Linked DNA regions of Homo sapiens. The protein of the gene in region 2 purifies or fractionates together with the protein of the main gene of each other region. This does not show direct contact. Each region holds a gene or a part of one and is shown on either strand. Other genes may lie near its edges.

The links.
Region 1: the proteins of DEFB136 (region 2) and ALDH6A1 purify together in Homo sapiens (affinity purification with mass spectrometry; one large-scale study listed by BioGRID and IntAct). This does not show direct contact.
Region 3: the proteins of DEFB136 (region 2) and PROS1 purify together in Homo sapiens (affinity purification with mass spectrometry; one large-scale study listed by BioGRID and IntAct). This does not show direct contact.
Region 4: the proteins of DEFB136 (region 2) and MANBA purify together in Homo sapiens (affinity purification with mass spectrometry; one large-scale study listed by BioGRID and IntAct). This does not show direct contact.
Region 5: the proteins of DEFB136 (region 2) and STK39 purify together in Homo sapiens (affinity purification with mass spectrometry; one large-scale study listed by BioGRID and IntAct). This does not show direct contact.
Region 6: the proteins of DEFB136 (region 2) and TMEM67 purify together in Homo sapiens (affinity purification with mass spectrometry; one large-scale study listed by BioGRID and IntAct). This does not show direct contact.
Region 7: the proteins of DEFB136 (region 2) and COL6A1 purify together in Homo sapiens (affinity purification with mass spectrometry; one large-scale study listed by BioGRID and IntAct). This does not show direct contact.

What each region holds. Positions count from the first base shown.
Region 1 is NC_000014.9:74,074,454-74,077,953, forward strand, and holds part of ALDH6A1 (methylmalonate-semialdehyde/malonate-semialdehyde dehydrogenase [acylating], mitochondrial isoform 1 precursor), read right to left. Parts: intron 565-3,500; coding exon 502-564; intron 1-501. UniProt on the Homo sapiens protein: Malonate and methylmalonate semialdehyde dehydrogenase involved in the catabolism of valine, thymine, and compounds catabolized by way of beta-alanine, including uracil and cytidine.
Region 2 is NC_000008.11:11,973,437-11,975,786, reverse strand, and holds DEFB136 (defensin beta 136 precursor), read left to right. Parts: upstream 1-1,187; coding exon 1,188-1,242; intron 1,243-1,668; coding exon 1,669-1,850; downstream 1,851-2,350. UniProt on the Homo sapiens protein: Host defense peptide that exhibits antibacterial and antifungal activity. Exhibits antimicrobial activity against E.coli, S.aureus and C.albicans (in vitro).
Region 3 is NC_000003.12:93,883,397-93,886,896, forward strand, and holds part of PROS1 (vitamin K-dependent protein S isoform 2 preproprotein), read right to left. Parts: intron 3,108-3,500; coding exon 2,940-3,107; intron 1,501-2,939; coding exon 1,332-1,500; intron 1-1,331. UniProt on the Homo sapiens protein: Anticoagulant plasma protein; it is a cofactor to activated protein C in the degradation of coagulation factors Va and VIIIa. It helps to prevent coagulation and stimulating fibrinolysis.
Region 4 is NC_000004.12:102,722,969-102,726,468, forward strand, and holds part of MANBA (beta-mannosidase precursor), read right to left. Parts: intron 1,000-3,500; coding exon 894-999; intron 74-893; coding exon 1-73.
Region 5 is NC_000002.12:168,160,596-168,164,095, reverse strand, and holds part of STK39 (STE20/SPS1-related proline-alanine-rich protein kinase), read left to right. Parts: intron 1-215; coding exon 216-357; intron 358-363; exon of another isoform or gene 364-374; coding exon of another isoform or gene 375-454; intron 455-2,253; coding exon 2,254-2,309; intron 2,310-3,500. UniProt on the Homo sapiens protein: Effector serine/threonine-protein kinase component of the WNK-SPAK/OSR1 kinase cascade, which is involved in various processes, such as ion transport, response to hypertonic stress and blood pressure.
Region 6 is NC_000008.11:93,761,394-93,764,893, reverse strand, and holds part of TMEM67 (meckelin isoform 1 precursor), read right to left. Parts: intron 1,053-3,500; coding exon 953-1,052; intron 1-952. UniProt on the Homo sapiens protein: Required for ciliary structure and function. Part of the tectonic-like complex which is required for tissue-specific ciliogenesis and may regulate ciliary membrane composition.
Region 7 is NC_000021.9:45,984,770-45,988,269, reverse strand, and holds part of COL6A1 (collagen alpha-1(VI) chain precursor), read right to left. Parts: intron 1,745-3,500; coding exon 1,585-1,744; intron 1,327-1,584; coding exon 1,198-1,326; intron 1,116-1,197; coding exon 1,095-1,115; intron 772-1,094; coding exon 751-771; intron 661-750; coding exon 616-660; intron 1-615. UniProt on the Homo sapiens protein: Collagen VI acts as a cell-binding protein.

The DNA.
Region 1 (3,500 bases), on a different chromosome or scaffold from region 2:
GTTTTGTATTTTTAGTAGAGATGTGGTTTCCCCATGTTGGCCAGGATGGTCTCGATCTCTTGACCTCGTGATCCACCTGCCTCAGCCTCCCAAAGTGCTGGGACACTAAATTTTTAAAGCGGTCTATGAACCAAAAAATGGTGACCTACTGTGGTACAGTGTGTGCATACTTCTGTGTAGAAAGAATTTGAGCAATAGTCCTTATTTATTAGATTTTAGATGCTGGAAGTGGTTGACAGACAGATGATCTGTAAAAACCACTCTAAAGGTCATTAAGAAGAAGACAACTATCTGGCAGGGTCAGCAGAACCTCTAGAAGCCATGAAAATGTTTGTATCTTTTGACATGGTAATCCATTTCAGGAGGGAAATAATCCAAAAGGAGGAAAAAACTAGAAAGTTTCACATACACTCTGATGACAATTATGTAAAGAAGATAGAGATACCCAAAACTATACTGAATTCCTTCTCAGAAGTCAACCTCTATGCCAAATAAACTCACCACTGAAGAAGAGAAGGAAGATGCTGAATACCAGGTGGGACTGGATTTCACCTTGGAAGAAACCTGTGAGGCAAAAGAACGATTATTTTGATAAATGAGAGCAGAAAGTTATTTAAAATTTAGCAAATAGCTACTATATGCTATTTGCTATAGTATATAGGGGGTATGTTTCTCTCAAAGGCCATACAGTCATTAAAGAGAAAAGATATGAATCTATGACACAGCAAACTATGAACAAACAATAAACCATAATAATCATGTCCTATATTTCCAGGATAGTACTGATTAAAAAAAATCTTTTTGTCATTATATTTTCCTAATTTGGGCCTGGCAAATGTACCATAAATCTAACAATATGAAAATACTTAGCATGGTATCTAACACAATAGGTACTGAATTTAAGATCATATAAAATCAATGTGCTGGGCATGGTGACTCACGCCTGTAATCTCAGCACTTTGGGAAGCTGAGACGGGTATATCACTTGAGTCTAGGAGTTTTGAGACCACCCTGGGCAACATGGCAAAACCTTGTCTACAAAAAATTAAAAAATTAGCCAGGCAGTGGTGGCACATGCCTGTGGTCCCAGCTACTAGGGAGGCCAAGGTGGGAGGATTGCTTCAGCCCGGGAGGGTGAGGCTGCAGTGAACCGTGATTATGCCACTGCACTCCAGCCAGGAAGAGAGAGGGAGACCTTGTCTCAAAAAAAAAAATCAATGTAAATATAAATATAAGTAATAGAGTATATAATCAATGTAAATATAAATCAAAATTTATTACCAAATGCAATTAAAATTATGTCCATATAGGTATTTGAAAAATGAATGTTCATAAGAACTTTATTTGTAGTAGCCCAAAACTTGGAAACAACCCAATGTCTACCATTGGATGGGTGAATAAGGAAACTAATGTGGTATATTCATACACTGGAATACTACTCAGCAAAAAAAGGAATGACCTGCTGATACATGCAATATAAATAGTCATAATAATTATGGCAAGAGACAGAAGTTAGATAATAAAAGTACATACTGTATGATTCTACTTATGTAACACTAGAGAATGCAAACAAATCTGTAATATCAGAAAGCAGAACAGTGGTTACCTAGGGATGACGAGGGAAACTTTTTGGGGTGATGGACATATGTTCATTATGTTGATTGTGATGCTATTTTCACAGGTGTATACAAATGTTAAAACTCATCAAACTGCATACTTTAAATATGTACAGATTGTTTTGTGTCAATTTTATTTTAATAAAGCTATATTGAAATGCCATAGGTACATTAAAGGAAAAAATGTGTTGGATAGATAATATTTGATGGAGTAAAATCAGTAAACGGGGAGGATCAGTTTCAACAAGATAACTCTCAAATTGTAACTCACTAAAAAAGTCTGTATATATGTTATCAAAGTTGATTTTTTGAGATGGAGTCTCACTCTGTCGCCCAGGCTGGAGTGCAGTGGCATGATCTCGGCTCACTGCAACCTCTGCCTCCCGTGTTCAAGCGATTCTCCTGCCTCAGCCTGCCAAGTAGCTCAGATTATAGGTGTCTGCCACCACGCCCAGCTAATTTTCTTTTTATTTATTTATTTTTTGAGACAGAATTTTGCTCTCATTGACCAGGCTGGAGTACAGTGGCATGACCTTGGCTCACTGCAACCTCCACCTCCTGGGTTCAAGCTTTTCTCCTGCCTCAGCCTCCTGAGTAGCTGAGATTACAGACACCCGCCACCATGCCTGGCTAATTTTATTTTATTTTTTTTGTATTTTTAGTAGAGATGGGGTTTCACCATGTTGGCCTGGCTGGTCTCAAACTCCTGACCTCAGGTGATCCACCCGCCTCAGCCTCCCAGAGTGCTGGGATTACAGGTGTAAGCCACTGCACCCAGCCTATATATATGTTATCAAAGTTGATTTAAGAAATACTTAAGCCAATCAAAATGAGCAAACTAAAATACTCAGGACTGGGATATAAAGGAAAGCTGCAATCTAATAATCTTTTATCTTGCCTGAAAAGGGACTCTGTTAACCAGAGTATAGAGCTGCATGAAGGGTGCCTGCAGCACTGCCCAGGAAAAGGTGGTGGTCCTTTGGTCCAGCAGATAGTCCTTCCAAATACCTCATCTGTTTGCTCTTCTATTCCCTACCAAAGCCATTTCAAACCACTGACACTCTCCTGGAGCCCATCATGTCTTATTTATAGCTATGTTCCCAATACCAATATAGTACTCGGTAGGTAGTAGGTGTTCAGTAAATATCTGCTGAATAAAATAGAAGCCCATTCCTGTCTGCTTCCTACCCCAAACTAGGTTAAGAGGCCCTTTTTTGTCCTCTGAAAGCAGCCAATACTTCCCGTTTCAGGCTTATCTCTCTGTGTTGTAATTGTTTGGTATCTTATTCCGTTTTGTGTTGCTATAACAAAATACCTGAGACTGGGCAATTTATAAGGAAAAGTAGTTTATTTAGTTCATGATTCTGCAGGCTGGGAAGTTCAAGGGAATGGCTCTAGCTTCTGGCGAGGGCTTCTGTCCTGTGTCATAATATAACAGAGAAGATCAAAGGGGAAGCAGACCTGTGTGAAGAGGCAAAACTGGGGGGGTATCCTGGCTTTATAGCCCACTCACACAGGAACTAATCCATTCCCATGGGAACTAATCCAGTCTCAAAAGAGCAAGAATTCACTCACTACAGCACAAAGCCATTCATGAGGGATCCACCCCCATGACCCAAACACCTCCCACTAGGTCCCAACACTATCACATTGGAGATTAAATTTCAACATGAGTTTTGGTGGAGACAAACCAACCATATCCAAGCCACAGCACCTGGGTACTTATCTGTTACCCATAAAGACTGTCAGTTTCAGGAGGGTTGACACTGCATCTGTCTTGTTCACCTACTTCAGAGTTAAAGATTAAACCTGATCAGGACTGTCCAGTTATAGAAAAGTAGTTAGCACAAAGCTGGTACTCATTAAATCTTATTGTTATGTCAT
Region 2 (2,350 bases):
CTCAAAAAACAATAATAATAATAATATTGAGTACCTACTGTATGGCAGTGTGCGTGCAAAGCATTTTATAAGCTGTATCTCATTTCATCCTGAAAAAAAACCACGCATAACCTTCCAATGCACTTTTTGAGGAGTTCTTGAGGCTGAGATGCTAAATAATGCATCTGAGGGTCTAGGCCTGCAAAGCAGAGTGTACCCAGGAATACCATGCTCCACTGACACACCACACACAGCCCTGTGGTTGTTGGCTGCCTGCGTAAAAGCCTGCCTTAAGGGTCAGAACAAAATCAAAGTTAGTGTCATCTTCACCCTCAGACATCCCTCATCACCCCAAGAGAGACAGGCCTAAGGGCCCTTCTCCAGGGCTGAGTCTCTGTCACTCCAGAGAAGCCCTGTCTGGCTCCACTCTGGACACTGTGCATCCAACCTTGAACACAGCACTGAACCGACTCTTCTAAGGGAGAGTTTCAACTCCTCAACTCCAAAAAAGAAATCTCTCCTAGAACCTTCAGAGTCCCCTCATCCTAGCCAACGTTTCATACCAGCCATTTGGAGAACAAAGTCCATCAGTGAACTTTTCCAGGACTTTTTTTTTTTTTTTTTTTTGCAGTATCTGCCTTCAGCCAGGTAAATAAGTCAGCTGCTAGACAAGGAAGCTGTCCCTTCTCCACTAGTTCTGAGCCCCTACCTTCTCTTGGTCAGGCCACTGGTTGACAATTTGAGAGACTCCGTGTGTCGGAACTGTCTTTCCAGGCTTAAATTCAGCCTGTGTTTCATAACACCCTTTCTCTGCGCTCCTGAGCTTTCAGTGGTGCTCCAGAGGAAAGGAGAGACAGAGCAGACATTTTCACTGCCATGTTTATATCAAAGTACATTTGAAGGCAGAGGGAAAGCGCTCAGGCCTAGGCATGGGGATCCTGGTCTTTTCTCCTATTCTGCTATCAGGAAACGTGACAGCCTTAGCTGAGTCTCTGGTTTTCCCGCGGTTTGTAGAAAAGGAGGTAGCACTGAAAGGCCAGGGCCTTTTCTTCCTCGAATTCTGCAGAACCCTGTGATCTCCTCAGTCTGCCCCTCCAGGAAGAGTGAGGCCAGGGTCCAGCCCCACCCATCGCAGCCCAGCCCAGCTCTATAAAGGAGCCTCCCAGGCAGACACCACTGGGAGTTCCAACTCTGTGCCCTCTTCGGCCATGAACCTCTGTCTTTCTGCATTACTCTTTTTCCTGGTGATCTTACTGCCTTCAGGTAAGACAGTGGGCGTGAGTCTGAACATAAAAGTGGGTGTTCCCAAAGATTGAGATGCTTAAAAAACCCTCTAACTATAAGCCCAGCAACAGGACACCAATATCAAATGGGCCACCATGTTAGGGGCATGGTGAGCGGACCCCAGCTCCTGCCCTGCTCTGCTGTTGCTGCAGCTGGAAGATCTGCCAGTGCACCGGGGACGGGGGTGGATGTCATTGTGCACACAGATCGTGCAGCCACCCAGATTCCTATCTCCCCTCCAATGCCTCTGGCTACCCTGAGCTTTATCTGCCTTGCTGAGTTGTGATAAGAGGTGAGGTAAATCACAACTAACAAGCCATCAACCAGGAGGTGATGGCAAGCCTAGGATTTCTCCCAGCCTCATTAAGATTGATTTTTCTTTTCTGTGGTCTCTCCCCGCTTCAGGAAAAGGTATGTTTGGGAATGATGGAGTCAAAGTTCGCACCTGCACTAGCCAGAAAGCCGTATGTTTCTTCGGGTGTCCGCCAGGATACAGGTGGATTGCGTTCTGCCACAATATTCTGTCTTGCTGTAAAAATATGACACGTTTTCAACCCCCGCAAGCCAAAGATCCATGGGTTCATTAAAAGGATATGTGAATGGCTCAAAGTACTACACTCCTAATCTGTGTGTCAGGATCTTAGAGCTCGTAAGTGAGCCATGGGCAGAAATGAGGACCACATTCTGACAATTTACTGGCAAAATTCCAGAAACATTTTGTAAAGGCAGCACTGCCATGAAATGCATCCCCTGTTATTTTTCCTACCCTCCCATCTCCAATCACTCATTCCTCTTTCAAATTCAAATTCAGGCCAGGCGCAGTGGCTCACGCCTGCCCGCCTGTAATCCCAACACTTTGGGAGGCTAAGGTGAGCAGATCACTTGAGGTCAGGAGTTTGTGACCAGCCTGGCCAACATGGTGAAACCTCATCTCTACTAAAAATACAAAAATCTTCCGGGTGTGGTGGGTGCATGTAATCCTAGCTACTCAGGAGGCTGAGGCAGGAGAATTGCTTGAACCCGGGAGACGGAGGTTGCATTGAAAAGAGATCACGACACTGCACTCCAGCCTGGACAACAGAGTGAG
Region 3 (3,500 bases), on a different chromosome or scaffold from region 2:
TGAAACCAGCCTGGCCAACATGGCAAAACCTCGTCAAAAATACAAAAATTAGCAGGGCATGGTGGCGCACCCTTGTAATTCCAGCTACTCAGGAGGCTGAGGCATGAGAATCACTTGAACCTGCAAGGTGGAGGTTGCGGTGAGCCGAGATTGTGGCACTGAGCTCCAGCCTGGGTGACAGAGTGAGACTCAGTCTCAAAAAAAAAGAAAAAAAGAAAGAAAAGAAAAAGAAAAACTAGCTACCAAACCATTCCCTTATTCTAAGCAGAAGGTAGTATTTTGAAAATCTGAGGCTGGGTGCGGTGGCTCACACCTGTAATCCCAGCACTTTGGGAGGCCAAGGGGGTGGATCATGAGATCAGCAGTTCAAAACCAGCCTGGCCAAAAACACAAAAATACAAAAATTAGCCGGGCGTGGTGGCGGGCGCCTGTAGTTCTAGCTACTCAGGAGGCTGAGGCAGAAGAATCACTTGAATCCAGGTGGCAGAGGTTGCAGTGAGCCAAGATTGCATCACTGCACCCCAGCCTGGGTGACAAAGTGAGACTCCATCTCAAAAACAAAACAAAACAAAATAAAAGATCTGAAACCTGTGGTGCATTAAGGGTAATCCTGGCACCAACAAAACTTAAGAAGCTCAACTTTTCACTAGATTGATTCAATCCCATTACTAAGAGCCTAGCAAAAGAAATGTGCTCATTTCCAGACACAAATATTCTTTATCTCAGTCTCTACTGTTATACGTAAGATGCCCAAATCTAAACCAAAAATTACATGGTACACAAAGATGCAAGAAAAACAACACTTGGTCAAGGGACAAAGCAAACAAAATGACGAGACTCAGATATGACACAGTTGGAACTACGAGACAGGGAATTTAAAATAATTATGATGAATACATTGAAAACTCAGTACATAAACTAGACAAGTGTGAACAGATAGGGAATTTCAACAGGGAGGTAGAAATTTTAAGAAAGCATCAAATAGAAATGCTAGAAATGAAGATGAATCTTTCTGATGCATTCATTGATAGACTCCATACAAGTGAGAAATCAGTGAACTTTAAAATAGGTCAATTGAATTTACCCATAAGGAATCAGGCTATGTACTGATAAACCTGAAATAACAACACAAGCACATTCAAATGCCTTTATATTTTTCCCAATACACTGAAAAATTTTTGTAAAAGGTATATAATAGTATGAATAAGCATAAGACTAGAGTGGGCACACAGTAGATACTCAATAATGTTTCACAAATAAATTATTACTGTTTGTTAATGAATAAATTTACTCATTAATGAGAAAATAGAGATAAATGGAAAATCACTTACTATAATCTATGTGAAATTGAGCAATTCCAGAACCAGGATAGTAGGAGCCCTTCTCCACAGTAACCAGGCAATGCTTATTTTGTTTTTCTTGAATAATTTCCTTTATTCCAGAAGCTCCTTGCTTCATCAAATTCCAGCTTCGTATACATCCATCTAGACGAGGGTTAATCTAACAAATTAAAATACAAGTCAAGGAGTGCATTTTAAACTTAAACAGTGGCTCGATTATGAGTATAGGTTTTCATTAAGAGAAAAAAAATCCTTTCTTTGATAATAGTTGAAAATATTTTGAATTTTATTTAAGTTTTTCTTTTCAAAGTATTCTTCAGATGGACAGTCTTTTTCAGTACAAGCAAGCTCATACTATCACAAGCCCTCAGTGGGATCTTAATGGTTTTTAACACTTCAAGCCCCACCTGCCTCTCCTACATCATCCAGTGGTAACTTTTCTGCTTTCAAGTTCTATATTTGCTTCTAGCTGTGGCCCTGGGCTCTAAGTTGTCTTGTTTATCTTCTTTGTTTGTTTGATTGAGATGGAGTCTTGCTGGAGTGCAGTGGCAGGATCTTGGCTCACTGCAACCTCTGCCTCCCTGGTTCAAGCGATTCTCCTGCCTCAGCCTCCTGAGTAGCTGGGATTACAGGTGCCCACCACCACGCCTGGCTAATTTTTGTACTTTTAGTAGAGATGGGGTTTTGCTACATTGGCCAGGCTGGTCTTGAACTCCTGACCTCAGGTGATCCACCCGCCTCGGCCTCCCAAATTGCTGGGATTACAGGTGTGAACCACCACGCCTGGCCTTGTTTTTCTTTAGTGGCATTTATAATATGGGTTTGTCTTGCCAATCAGACTCTAAGTCTCTTCAGACACAAAAGTGTTTGCATTCTTTAGCCTCCATCAAGTATCCTGCCAGGCTCAAGACATGTAATAACCGTTTCATAAATGATTGATACTTTTTGAATAATTTATTTTACTTTTAAAGTGTATTAATTTCTCAGTTTCAAACAACAGGTATACTCATGTCAACATGGGTTAATTAATTCAAGCTTAATATCATATAATGGAAATCTTTTAAAAGTTAAAGTAACTACGAATTTCCAGAGAATGAAAGACGGATGTAAGATAGTAAATATTTAACAATAAATTTCACCTTATGTGCTATTCTTTAGCTCTTGCATTTAAGTCCTAAAAATAGACTTGAGAAAGTCCTTTGACTGGCTTTTACAAAATGGTGTAATTTTGGACTTAAATATATGAATTTATATGTTTAACAACTGAGTATGGATTATCATGATGTTAACACTGAACATTACATTACTAATGTTAACATTAGTGTTAACATTCTCAAGTGTTAACTTGAGAATTTTAGAAATCCACTTCATGATTTATGCTGGGGATTTAAATGGGCACAAAACCACTACGTCATTTTTTTATTTCATTAATATAATTTCAAGGGTTACTAATGTTATTTTTCCATGATCATTTCAAGTTGTCACACTTAGTATGCTTAACAAAACAACTTCTATTGATTCTCAGAAACACACATATTCAAATCTATTACAGACAAAAGGAACTCATCCATGATGAATGATACAAGCTTGGATCATTACCGGTTTAATGAGTTCACTTTCCACTTTCCGAGGGAATCCTGCAAAGTATACTTTGGTTTCCAGCAATCCATTTTCCGGCTTAAAAAGGGGTCCAGGTTTATTTATATCCATCACAGCTTCTTTAGCTATTTTAATGCTAATACTATGTTCTAATTCTTCCACAGACACCTACAATTAAAAAGAAAAATTACCAAATAACCAAGTATTACTACATGTCATTTGAAATACTGGGATCTAAAACTTATGTTATTATTCCAATAAAATACTTCTGTAAAGTAATCATTTTAATGTAATTATTAATTTGTTACAACTCATTTGGAATGTCAAATTATGATAAATGTGATAAAAAGGCATTTAGGGTGGCAGCACGATCAAAAATTAAAAGCATACCATATTTTAAAGTTAAAAAAAATACTATTCTGTTAAGCTTAAACATCCAGTTATATATCTTTCAATTCCAGGCTGCTAGAAAATTAACAATTAAGTGAGCCATTCTATCTTAGGAAAAATTTAAGTGGCCTTATTTTGCAATTGTCTGATAATACGCACATGGAATCAATA
Region 4 (3,500 bases), on a different chromosome or scaffold from region 2:
CATACAACACCGCTGACTGGAAACGCAGCTCAATGGAGTTCACGTCCCTGACCACGTTGGTAATATCAAAGCTCTAAGTTAAAGGGAACAATCAGACAAACCCATGATGTGGAAGTAGTCTTGTGTGTAAAATTTTAGATAAAGGCATTTTGTATGAAAGACACATAATATAATGCCGATCTAGGTTTAGCCTCCTTGCAGGAGGGAACACTTCTCTGAAACACTGTAGTATCTATCACTTAGTTGCCCACTTTTAGTTAAAACTAAGCATATTTTCCTACCCAATCCAAGTTTCTAGGCTTCTCCTTCTATTTTTCCTGGCAAAATGATGGTCCTAGGGAAATGGATAGAGCAAAAAATAACTTTAGCTCTGGAATGTCTGCTCTGTCTACTTATATGTGGCCTTGAACTGCCAAGGGTTTCCTAGACACTTCATGACAACCTGCCTCTCCGGTATGAACAGCATGCATTTCTAAGTAATGAGTTATTTTTGTTTTGAAAAGTCTACCTTTGAAAGGAAAGGAAGATCAGCATATAATCTCTTAATATAACTATTCCAGAAAGGAAATGACATTTTATTTTAAAATCATTTGTCCAATGAAACTGTATCAGCAGAGGAGGGATTGGCATGTTTTGAACACTTCCTATGTGCCAAGAACTTGCCAACATTTTATACAATTAGCTTACTAAATCCCCACACTAACCCCATGGGGTTTGTAAGGTTTCCATTATTCCACAAATGTGGCAACTGAGAAATCAAGTAACTCATCCAGTGCTTTAATGAGCTCATATTTGTCACATGGCCAATTATGCATTTACTTTTCTCTACTCACAAAAGCAATTAACATAAACACACATAAATTTTTTTTAACCTAATGTCATTATATACTTACATATCTATTGAACATATTGTCTGTTTCCCCAATAGTGACTTCATTGAACAGGATTTTTGAAACCGTATCCACTCCCTCAAGAATCAAATTTACTTTTTGCCATTTGCTAAAAAAAAGAAAAGATTTTTAAAACAAGATGTGTAAAGCATTAACTTAGATAAGTCTCTTTTTTATTATTTAAGGCCTAAAGAAATAAATATTCCACAAAAAATATATGTTCTTAAAAGGCAGTTTCCAGTGACATTTTCAGAAGTACTGCTTTAAAACATACTTACGTCCTTTGAGTGATCCAGCTTATCTTTCTCTATAATGTATCAATAAATCACCATAAAACCAAGAGCACAACTTATAATTTCCAAATATATTGACTTTTTCTAGTTAATACTTCAGAAAGCTATTATGAGAACCAAGTTAGGCCAGGAGCAGTGGCTCACGCCTGTAATCCCAGCACTTTGGGAAGCCTAGGCAGGCAGATCACCTGAGGTCAGGAGTTCGAGACCATCCTGGCCAACATGGCGAAACCCTGTCTCTACTAAAATTACAAAAAACTAGCCAGGCGTGGTGGCGGGTGCCTGTAATCCAAGCTACTAGGGAGGCTGAGGCAGGAGAAACACTTGAACCCAGGAGGCGGAGGTTGCAGTGAGTGGATATCCCACCACTGCACTTGCAAGATTCCGTCTCAAAAAAAAAAAAAAAAATGAGAACCAAGTTAAATAATAGACATAAAATGTTCTCACAAACTACATTTACTGACCCTGTCTAAGAGAACACGTTAGAAAACTATCATCTATAAGTGAATATTATGCACCCAGCACTCTGCTAAGCCTTACAGGAAACTATAACAGTGCCTGTACTTAAGGAGTCTGCAATCTGGTTGGCATTTGGTGGCTGGCTGGCAATATTGTTGAACAACTACAAGTGCTATCAGAGTTTATCTCATAAGAAAAGATTTCAAAATGGAAACAAGAACTTAATGAAGAGAAGAATAAATAAAATGTGTTGTATTCATACAATAAAATACTATTCAACAATAAAAAGGAATGAAGTACTGATACATGCTACAACATGGATGAACTTTGAAAACATTATTATGCTAAGTGAAAGAGGCGGTCACAAAGGCCCACATATTGTATGATTCCATTTATATGAGGTATCCAGAACAAGGAAATCCAGAGGGACAGAAAGTAAATTAGTGGTTCCTAGGGCTGGGGTAAGAATTCAGGGGCAGGAGGAGTGGGCAATGGGAAATGACTGCTAATGGGTGTAACTTTTTGTGGGGGGATGAGGAAAATGTTCTAAAATTGATTGTGGTGATGGTTTTGTAACTGTAAGTATACTAAAAACCATTGAATTATATACCTTAAATGACTGAATTGTACAATATGTTAATTATATATCAATAAAGTATTTTTTTTAAAACTAGGTAGAAATGACTGGGTGGAGGCATTTCTACTCCCCTTATACCCTTTGCTCTTTGCAGGAACCCCTTACCCCTGCAAAGAGCAAAACCAAAACAAGGAAGTGCTGACAGCATGAATTACTTTTAGGTAATCGACTCATATGTGTAATTTGGGCTGGGGAGCTAAGGAGGAAAAAGCTGGACAAATCCAAGGGGCAGAGAGGTGCGGGCAGTGTTACAGGGACAGACATCTTTCAGCTGTATTTTCACAGACAAGTGAGAAGTTTATACTTGATTTGCCAAGTAAAATAGACACTTGCTATTCTTGAACGAATACCTATCTTGGCACAATCAATATTCTGTGATGATTAATCTAATGTTTCTAAATTGAAAAGATTGGAGAATAAAAGAACAAAGCAAGAAATTTGATTAGGCAGCTTTGGCCTCTTTCCTGGCACTCTTCTAGGCAAAGATGGAAAGATGGAAATGAGATGGAAGGGGCCAAACCAAGAGAAATGTTAAACAAAAATTTGCAAGACCCACCCAGAACAGACTGAACACAGGAAGATGAAGAAAAGATGTAATAAGCCCAAAGCACCTTAGACATAGACTGGAAAATGGTGTTACATCAAGAAAAACAATGAAGCTGTTAGAATATAAAGTTAGTTTTAAGGGGGAAAATCAATTGGATATGTTGAGTTCAAGGTGAAATAGAACCATTACGAAAGATATTCTAAATATTATCTGTAAATAAAAGCCTGGAGCACAGCAGTAACTCCATGATATTGATAACAATATTCTGGCCTTTTCCCCCCTTTAAAAGACTAGTAAATAATTACCAAAAAAAAAAAATCACATAAAAGGGACAGAAGGATTTTTTTTTTCATTTAGCAGTAGTGGTGGTACCTTTGGGTAACATTCTACCTCATATGGAAATATTTGCTTATAATAACAGAACATTACTGAAAACAGTATCTGTGCTTCACCTCCTGGCTTCACCACATAGTATAGGTCAAGGTCATAGTCTCAATGGCTGGTTAGCACTACATAGGGCATAACCACTGGAAAAATGACTCCATAAGACACAATTTGGTGACTGTTGATTAGTAGCACCATCCTCATATACAAAACAAAACATAAATAATATATTCACTTTTATAGTACAAGGCTTTCATCTTACTTAACTCTCAGATATGTAACCTAAACAA
Region 5 (3,500 bases), on a different chromosome or scaffold from region 2:
TTCTCGTTAAATTCACACTGAAAGTGCTCTTGCAAACTTGGATTTAGTGTTTTTGGTCATGGGGCCCCCATTCAATTGTTTGTTTGCCTTGGGAATATTTGCATTAAATAAAGCCCATATTTTGATGTTTCTATTAAATTTTATACATAATGGAGTCTTGTTCTGAAAAGGTGATGAAGGTGCTTATGTTTTAATTCTTCTGTTTGTCTACTTAGGTTCAATGTTGGATATCATAAAATACATTGTCAACCGAGGAGAACACAAGAATGGAGTTCTGGAAGAGGCAATAATAGCAACAATTCTTAAAGAGGTTTTGGAAGGCTTAGACTATCTACACAGAAACGGTCAGATTCACAGGTATGACCTCTGCAGAGATGTTTAAATTCAGATGTTCATATCTTAAAGAGGTTTTGGAAGGCTTAGACTGTCTACACAGAAACGGTCAGATTCACAGGTGTGACCTCTGCAGAGATGTTTAAATTCAGATGTTCATATCTTCAGCCCTAGTTTGTAAAGAATGTTAAGGAAACACATGTTGCAGGCAGGTATTGACATTACTTTAACTTAGTCTAAATAGATGGGAAAAAAGTACTTAAGAAAGAAACAAGAGAATAAATTTTGATGAATTATATTGGTATCCTTGGGATTGCTTCAGTTGCTTTCACTGAAATAAGAGTGGAATCTAAAAAGGACTACATGGACTCATTTAAAAAGATCAGTTTTGGTAACTACTCTTGAATTATACTAGTTGAACTAGACAGCATCTCTATCTTTCTAATACAAGCAAGACTATCCAAACATTGTACTATGTGAATTATTTTTGATGTGGTGGTGAGAGGGAAGGAAGAGGTACTCATCTTCTTTTGTGACATAAAATGTTAATTCTTTACATAGTCAAATCACATAGAATATGAGTGCTTGATGTTTCAAGTGAGTGAGTGCTACTTGGGCTCTTAGGAATTATTGCAAGTAAATAGCCATTTACCAGTAATACTAATAATGTAATTCTCCTACCCTGAAATTTATATTTAATTATTTCTACTATATTTTTCTTTTTCTTTTTTTTTTTGAGACAGAGTCTTGCTCTGTTGCCCAGGCTGGAGTGCAATGGTGTGATCTCAGCTCACTGCAACCTCTGCCTCCCGAGTTCAAGCAATTCTCCTGTCTCAGCCTCCCGAGTAGCTGGGATTACAGGCATGCGGCACCATGCCTGGCTAATTTTTGTATTTTTAGTAGAGATGGGGTTCACCATGTTGGCCAGGCTGGACTGACACTCTTGATCCCAGATGATCTGCCCACCTTAGCCTCCCAAAGTGCTAGGATTACAGGCGTGAGCCACTGTGGCTGGCCTATATTTTTCAATAATTAGAAAAAAGTTACTTTAGAAATCAAATTTATAAATTGCAAGTTGTCATTTTTCAAAGTACTAAGATTACACAGGTTTTATACGGTGAAGAAATATAATATCTATTATTATAATTAGTATTTATAATCAGTCTCTCACCAGAGAGAAGTTCATTTTTCAGAAAGATAATTAAGTTGGAATTGCATCCCAAATTTAAGTGGAAGTAGAGGAGCTTTACATAGACTGGGCTTTAATACTTGGTAGAATGACAGTAGTGTGAGTTTATGGGCAGTGTCTAACTCTGAAGCATAAAATAGAGAGTCTATTTACTGATGATTTAATTAAATTTGGATAATTATTTCATAGAAAATATTTCTTTCTAAAATCCTAACTCTCCCCCACGAGTAAACTATAAAGTGACAGGTGGATCCTTATACCTTTTTTTTTTTTTTTTTTTTTTTTTTGAGACCAAGTTTCACTCTTGTTGCCCAGGCTGGAGTGCAGTGGCACGGTGTTGGCTCACTGCAGCCTCCACCTCCCAGGTTCAAGTGATTCTTCTGCCTCAGCCTCCCAAGTAGCTGGGATTACAGGCACCTGCCACCATGCCCAACTAATTTTTATATTTTTAGTAGAGATGGGGTTTCACCATTTTTTCCAGGCTGGTCTCGAACTCCTGACCTCAGGTGCTCCACCCACCTTGGCCTCCCAAAGTGCTGGGATTACAGGCGTGAGCCACTGTGCCCAGCCTATCCTTATAACTTTTAAAATCTGTGCTATTATCTTAATATTTATGAAATTATTATGTCAAAGAGCTGCGTTGTATGATATGTTTTAAAATCTTCCTGAGTGAATCAATACACTATAAAGTCTGTACCCTACAATTTATTTTCTATTTTTTTTTCTAATAGGGATTTGAAAGCTGGTAATATTCTTCTGGGTGAGGATGGTTCAGTACAAATAGCAGGTAAAGCTGATAAATAGAAAAATTTTTTACTTGATTACGGAAGTGTTACAGTTTCAAGGAATGTAGAATCATTCCTGAGAAATGAATAAATGCATGTAATCTCTTTTCAGAATGATATTTACAGAATGTTTGGGTCCGAAGGATAACATATTTTCCTTATTGTTTTGATAAGTCATTAGATCATCCTGTGAAAAATGCCATTTTAGTACATAGCTTTTTGATAAAGAATAATTTTATTTTCAATTTTATTATGTTTTCTACCTTTCACATTTTATAATGGTAATACTCATATAACTTCAAGAAATGCACTTGTAAAAACATTTTTCGATAGGTTTGAAAATTTAAAACATCATACACATCAATTAAAAACTAATTTATTTCTTAAGAGGTATCTGAAAGAATTGTGAACATTAAAAATCTGGGCCTTATTTTGTTTTTAACTCTGACCCAACATGGCTATTCTTGACAAAGCTGGTAGGCTGGGGATGCAATGAATGTCTTTTACATGAACACACAATATCAGGTGAGCACCTTTCGTGTTCAAAGCCTCTATTTTGTTATTGGCCCTAGAGTAACCTTAAAGGCCTGGGATAAGATGTAGCCACGCCCATATTAACTCTTGCTTTACCCATGTCGTTGAAAGTCTGTCTCAGCAATCCTTTTAGCTTTCATGGTTTCTTGGGGGAGTGTTCTTGGCATTTTTTGGCTAGACAGTCATTCCCTCTACTGGAGTGACCCTGTCATTGCAGAGACGCGTAAGATGAGCCCACTTGTACCCATCACCTAGTTTCAATAATTATCAATCTTTGGCAATTCTTGATTCATCTGCTGCCCCCCACCCCCACCCCCCGACTCTGGTGCCTCTCCTCATCGTGGAGGCTGGATTTTGTTGTTGAGCCATCTGAGTTAGTGCTTTGTGTGTGCATATCTTGTCCTCATGAGTGGACCTTATCCCATAGGCTAAGGACAGTTTGAAAAAGTACTTCAGTTAAACAAGTAACAGCTAAGAGACATCTGTGGGCAAAGATTTCAAACTGTCCAGCCCCAAGCAGTCTAGTTGTTCAGAGTGCAGGCTCTGGTGTCAGCTGACTTGATCGAAATTCTGAGGCCACCACTTAGTAGCTGTACCACCTTGGGCAAGTTACCAAACCTTCTTAAGACTCAGTTTCCTTAAAGAAGGGTAAAAATATA
Region 6 (3,500 bases), about 82 Mb from region 2:
GACAGAGGGAGGGAGGGTACTGGTCCAATGAGGACAGTGATGAGTGAATATATGGGTATTCATCACTTGCAAAATAGAGCAGGTAGGAGTCGGGCTGGGGCATGACATAAAACACACTAGGCTTGGGGAAATATTGGGCAAAAAAAATTGGTATTTGGATGCCATAACTCAGGTCAGCCTTAGAGAAAAGATGATCCAACACTAAGTAGCCCTCAGAAAAGCTGCTCAACTATTTTCCATATTAAACTTGGAAACTAAAGAAAAAACTGTGCCCGGAGGGAAGTCATGATGTAGGCCTCTAATAAATTAAAGATGCTGAAATTGGTATAATGTGCTTAAATTAGAGGGAAGTATATAGGCAGGCAGGGGTGTGTGTGTGTGTGTGTGTGTGTTTCACAAATACATGCACAAAGGGGGAACAGGAAGCAACAGAAAATGGGACTATAAATCAGGGTACCTGGGCTATTATTAGCATACATTTATGTTTTTCTATGTAACATTATAATACATAAGGGCTTTAGTACAGTACTTAGCACATAATTATATTACAGATTATATACAAATTATGTAACAACAAACAAAAATAGCTACCCTGTACAGAGTGGTTACTATGTAGCACTATACTAAGAACTGTATCTATTTACTTTATTACTTATTATTTCTGAGCCATTACAGCCTATGAAGTGGGTGGTAACATTACCATTCTAAAGACAAGGGATTGTGAAGTAGTGAGCTATCCAAGGTCAGACAACTAACAGACTGGACCAAAATTTGAACCCTAGTGTGTCTCACGCTCTGGGCCTCAGCTTCTGTATCTGTTAATGTCTACTTCTATCCTTCCTTGGGTTATTGTGAAAACTAAGTGATATGATAGGAAAACACTCTTAAAAGTACAAATTATACACTAATATAAGATGATATTAATGAAGTTAGCCCCCATCACACTGCTTACCTGTCTCCTAAAGCATTTACTACCATAAAAGAGTTTTCATTTCCATCACAGAGCTCACAAGTTGCTTGAGACAACAATGTTCCATTAATGTCTCTTTCCACTGAACAGTTTAGAAACAAAATAAAGATGTAACTCATAGTAAACATATAAGCTTCTACATATTCAGAAAATATTTAACAAAACCCAATTGTAACTATTATTCTATTAATTCTCAAAACACTTTATTTGCATTAAAGGCATAACAAGTATCTCCATAATAAAGTGTAGAGAAGTGATCCCTTCGTACCCGTCCATGCCTCCAAAAAAAAAGAGAAGTGATGCCTTCCCTATTCTCACATAGTAAAATATAGAAAATCATTTTCCAAGTCATCGTAACAATTAAGTCAGTATTTTTTTCCTCAAAAATTTTCTTACCTCTTATCTATACATTTCTGTCACACTAGGATGGGGAAGCAAGTATTTTCATAGATTACTGATAAGTTTCTGCAACTTAGAAGGCTTTTAGTAGTATCTATTAAAGTTTCAAATTCACATCCTTATAACACCACAATTTTGTTTTTAGATACCTAACTTACAGAAACACTTGAACATGTATATAAGGATATTCACTGAGGCATTATTTGTTAGAAACAACACGAATATTTAAAATAGCAGAATGATGGTATATCCATGCTACAAAATACTATGGAATATATTAAAAAGAATCAGGTAAGGCCAGGTGAGGAGGCTTATGCCTGTAATCCCAGCCCTTTGGGAGGCTAAGGTGGGTGGATCACATGAGGCCAGGAGTTCAAGACCAGCCTGGCCAATATGGCAAAACCTTGTCTCTACTAAAAAAAAAAAAATACAAAATTAGCTGGGTGTGGTGGCACGTGCCTGTAATCCCAGCTACTCAAGTGTCTGAGGCATGAGAATCACTTGAACCTGGTAGGTGGAGGTTGCAGTGAGCTGAGATCACACCACTACACTCCAGCCTGGGCAAGAGTGAGACCCTGTTTCAAAAAACAAACAAACAAAAAGAATCAGGTAAATCTAACAGAGCATCAGAGCATACCGTTAACTGAAAAAAGTATGCTAGAACAATATTTGTGTATGAAACATTTATGCAAACATACCACTTATGTTTCCTGTGGCTATATAGTGTAGATCCTTATAATAAAACAGGGAAAAAAAATTCTGAATGTGCACACACAGAGACACACACACCAAAATTAGTACATCATGAAGTGTAATAAATTTCATATTGCCATCCAACTCATAAAACTTTCATTAGTCCCATCCCTAAGAATACACCCCCCAAATACCGTGAGAATCAAGTTAATATTTTCAATGGAGGCAACAGTGCCAATGAAACTACTAAGAAGCTGGGTGCAGTAGATTGCTTAAGCCCAGGAGTTTGAATCCAGCCTGGGTAACATAACAAGACCACGTCTCTGAAAAAATAAGACCAGGCATGGTGGCTCACACCTGTAATCCCAACACATTGAGAGGTCAAGGCAGGAGGACTGCTTGAGGTCAGGAGTTCAAGACCAGCTTGAGATATATAGTAAGACCCCCATCACCACAAAAAAAAAAATTGTTAAAAAGTAAAAAAAAAAAAAGGTAAAGATAATTAAAAAATTAATCTTTGGGTAATATATGAAATATAAAAATAAAAGGCACAAAAGGATTTATTTTATTTTATTTTTTGAGAGAGTTTCGCTCTTGTCATCCAGGCTGGAGCACAGTGGCGTGATCTCACTCACTGTAACCTCCACTTCCCAGATTCAAGTGATTCTCCTGCCTCAGTGTCCCAAGTAGCTGGGACTACAGGCACCTGCCACCATGCCCAGCTAATTTTTCTATTTTTAGTAGAGACAGGGTTTCACCATGTTGGCCAGGGTGGTTTTGAACTTCTAACCTCAGGTGATCCACCCACCTCGGCTTCCCAAAGTGCTGCGATTACAGGCGTGAAACACTGCACCAAGCAAAAAAAGATTTAAAATGAAAATTAAGTCTCTTTCCCACTATTCCCAGGCACTCAGTTCTTCACTCAGGAGGCAGCATTGTTAACAGTTTCTTATGAGTCTTTTCAGAAATAACCTGTGCATATACAAGCACATATGCATATATAATGGTCTTTAAAAAGCTAAATAGTGGAATACCAAGTACATAAAATAGTGCTGATAAATAGCAGGTACTCAATAAACATTTGTAGATGAATGAATAAATTATTCCAAATCTTGCTTTTTTACTCAATATATCTTAGATTTCTTTCCATAGCACTATGTGTAGAACTGCCTCTTTATTTTTCCACAATTGCATTCTATACCATTGTATGACTATATCATAATTTAATTGATTGATCTCATCTTGATAGAATCTTATTTTGTTTATAATCTTTTGTCTTAGGAATAATGTTGCAAGAAAAAAACATTCAACACTTCTTCAGGCATACAGTTAAGTGTATCCAAATGAGAAATTTCTAGATGAGAGCTTTCCAGGCAAAGATAATCTGTATTTTTAATTTTGATAAACACCATAAATTTGCTTTCCACAGAGGTTGCAC
Region 7 (3,500 bases), on a different chromosome or scaffold from region 2:
CATCTGGACCCCGCCGTCCCCTCCATCTGGACCCCGCCGTCCCCTCCATCTGGACCCCCGCCGTCCCCTCCATCTGGAGCCCCGACGTCCCCTCCATCTGGACCCCGCCGTCCCCTCCATCTGGACCACGCCGTCCCCTCCATCTGGACTCCCGCCGTCCCCTCCATCTGGAGCCCCGACGTCCCCTCCATCTGGACCCCGCCGTCCCCTCCATCTGGACCCCGCCGTCCCCTCCATCTGGACCCCGCCGTCCCCTCCATCTGGACTCCCGCCGTCCCCTCCATCTGGAGCCCCGACGTCCCCTCCATCTGGACCCCGCCGTCCCCTCCATCTGGACCCCGCCGTCCCCTCCATCTGGACCCCGCCATCCCCTCCATCTGGACCCCGCCGTCCCCTCCATCTGGACCCCGCCGTCCCCTCCATCTGGACCCCGCCATCCCCTCCATCTGGACTCCCGCCGTCCCCTCCATCTGGACCCCCGCCGTCCCCTCCATCTGGACCCCCGCCGTCCCCTCTGGATCCTCATGGTGGACTTGGGTGCCCAGGAGGCTTTGGTCCTGCCACCCCCACTCCCAGGCCCCACAACACATGGGAGGAGCAGGAGTCACCACTCACCTCAAAGCCGGGGTCGCCCCGGAGCCCCGGAGGTCCTCTTGCAGGCTGCAAGGCAGAGGGGACGGTCAGCCAGGACCCCAGACTCAGGTTCCCAGGGTGCAGGGCGCGGGGTCAGGGGTCGGGGGGCACACTCACCTGGCATTCGAAGGAGCAGCACTGTGGGGGGAAAGCATGGAGACGAGTCAGTGGGAAAGCCACGGACATACGGCTGGGACACAGGGTGACATGCGACCCAGGCACATGGGCAGACGGACACACGGATGGACGCACAGGCGGACACATGTCCCAGGCACATGGGCAGACACACAGGTGGACACGCAGGGGGACACACATCCCGGGCACACGGGCAGACACGCAGGGGACATGTGTCCCGGGCACATGGGCGGATATGCATAGGGACATGCGTCCTGAACACACAGGTGGACGTGTGGGTGGACGTGTGCAGACTCACGGCTGGGGGTGGTGGGGAGGGCTCTTACCACTTGCTCCACGTTATTTTTCTGGAAAGAGAAATGGAAACGCAGAATTACTTTCCACCTGCGGCCGCCGCGGGCCTCCCCGTCTCCTGGGCAGGGGCCTCACGATCATGTCCACGATGGTGTCGATGGTCTGGCTGATGGCCTCCTCTGCGTCGCGGCTCTGGCCCCAGTCAGCCGCCGTGAAGTTGCGCCGGTACGTGTGGTCCGTGGCGATGATGCTCAGACGCGGCTCCTGGGGGCAGTGTTCAGGGTGGGCTGAGCAGGGCTGGGACCCCTGACGGCCGGGGCCGCTTCCCACAGGGCCAGAGGGGAGGCTGGGCTGGGGCGCTCCAGGCTCCTCAGCAGGAGGGGCTGGCCTCTCAGGGGCAAGGGTGGCCGGCTGGAGAACCCACACCCTCCCGAGGACCAAAAGACGGTCCCAGCTGCCGGGGGCCTTGCAGCCGCCACTCCCTGTGGTTGGGGGCATCTGCCGGGGGGGGCCGGTGCCTACCAGGTGGTCGGGTGTGATGGCCACCGAGAAGACTTTGACGCCCAGGTGCTTGGCCTCGTTCACAGCATCCTCCAGCCCCCCACAGGGTTCCTTGTAGCCCTCCAGGGGGTGCCCGTCGGTCACCACAATCAGGTACTTATTCTCCTTCAGGTGGGAGCCCCTGGACAGGAGAGGGCAGCGTGAGACCTCGAGACTAGGTGGGGGAACTGGAGGGAGACCCAAGCCTGTCCGGGAGGTGCTGGTCCCTGTCTCACCGGGAGGAGCCGCCTCTCTTTGCTGATCCTGGCTATACGGTGGGGGTTACTGAAAAGAACCTCACCATGGGAAATAACGCCTGTGGGTCTCATTTCTCTAAACTGCTTTGGAAAATCCACGCCCTCCCAGGAGAGGCACCCATGACCCCAAAGGAGGCTCGGTTCCTGGGGTGCCCTGGGGCGCAAAGCCCCTGACCAGTGAGTGGAGGCTGAGGGTGGCAGGGAGCGTGCCCCTCCGAGATGCCCGCCGCGTCTACCCACAAGCTGCCTCAACTCAAGGCTGCTCGGTCACCGTGGCTCTTGCAGGAAATGGGTGTGATGAGCAAACAACAGGGCGATCCCTGAATGCCCCAAATCCAACCCCCCGAAAGGGAAAGTGGGAGCAGCAGGAAGGAGGGCAGTATCGCAGGGCAGTCGGGCAGCCTGCTGGGGACGCTGAGCATCTCGGCCAGAAGGGCGAGCTCATTTAGGGGAGTCGTGTCTGTCTGTGGCTTCCACAGGGGGCCGCACTCTGACGTGTGTGGCCACATCCCCCATGCACCCCCTGCAGACAGCGGACGACTTCCTGAGACTCCAAGTCCCCCAGGTCCCAGCTTGGCACCAACTCTGGAGGGAAGTGGGCACAACCATTGGAAAGGGAATGTCCGGCCCACACCGGCCATGTGGCCCTCTGAGACCGACCTCGGGGAGAGGCTCTCCCCAAACCCCCCGCACCGCCTGGCTGGACAGGGCAGCCTCGGGTACCCCCACTGGGATCCTGAGGCCTCGTGAAGGGCTGGGTGTGGGGAGGCCACGTTCCCCTCTGGACACTCCGGGGCTTGCGGCCCCTGCGTCCCCACAGCTGGACACTGGGATGAGAGGAAACCCCTCAGTCCAGAAAAACCCCGAGAAAGCGCATGCTTCGGGTCTGATGAGTCTGTTTCAGTGATCCTAGCCCTGCTTGGTGTTGATGCTGTGGGGAAAACCACCCCGTCTCTCTCAGTCTCTCAGTCTCTCTGCCTCTGTTTCCGGTCTCTCTGTCTCTGTCTGTCCCTGTCTCTCTGTCTGTCTCTGTCTGTGCTTCTCTCTCTGTCTCTCTGCCTCTGTCTTTGTCTCTCTCTCTCTGCTTCTATCTCTCTGTCTCCCTCTCTGTCTCTATCTCTCTGTCTCTGTCCCTCTGTCTCTATCTCTCTATTTCTGTCTCTGTCTCTGTCCCTGTCTCTGCTTCTCTCTGTCTCTCTGCCTCTGTCTGTCTCTGCTTCTCTCTGTCTCTCTGTCTCTGTATGTTTCTGTCTCTGTTTCGCTGTCTCTGTCTCTGTCTCTCTGTCTGCCTGTCTCTGCCCCTCTGTCTCTGTCTCTCTGTCTCTGTTTCTGTCTCTGTCTCTGTCTGTCTCTGACTGTCTTTGTTTCTCTGTCTCTGCTTCTCTCTGCCTCTGTCTTTTTCTATCTGTCTCTGTCTCTCTCTGTTTCCCTCTGTCTCTCTCTCTTTCTGTCTCTGTCCCTGTTTCTGTCTCTCTGTCTCTGTTTGTCTGTCTCTGTCTCTGTCTCTCTGTCTCTCTCTGCCTGTCTCTGTCCCTCTGTCTCTGTTTCTGTCTCTGTCTCTCTCTGTCTCTGTCTGCCTGTCTCTGTTCCCGTCTCTGTCTCTCTGTGTCTCTCTCTGTGTCTCTGTCTCTGTCTCTGTTT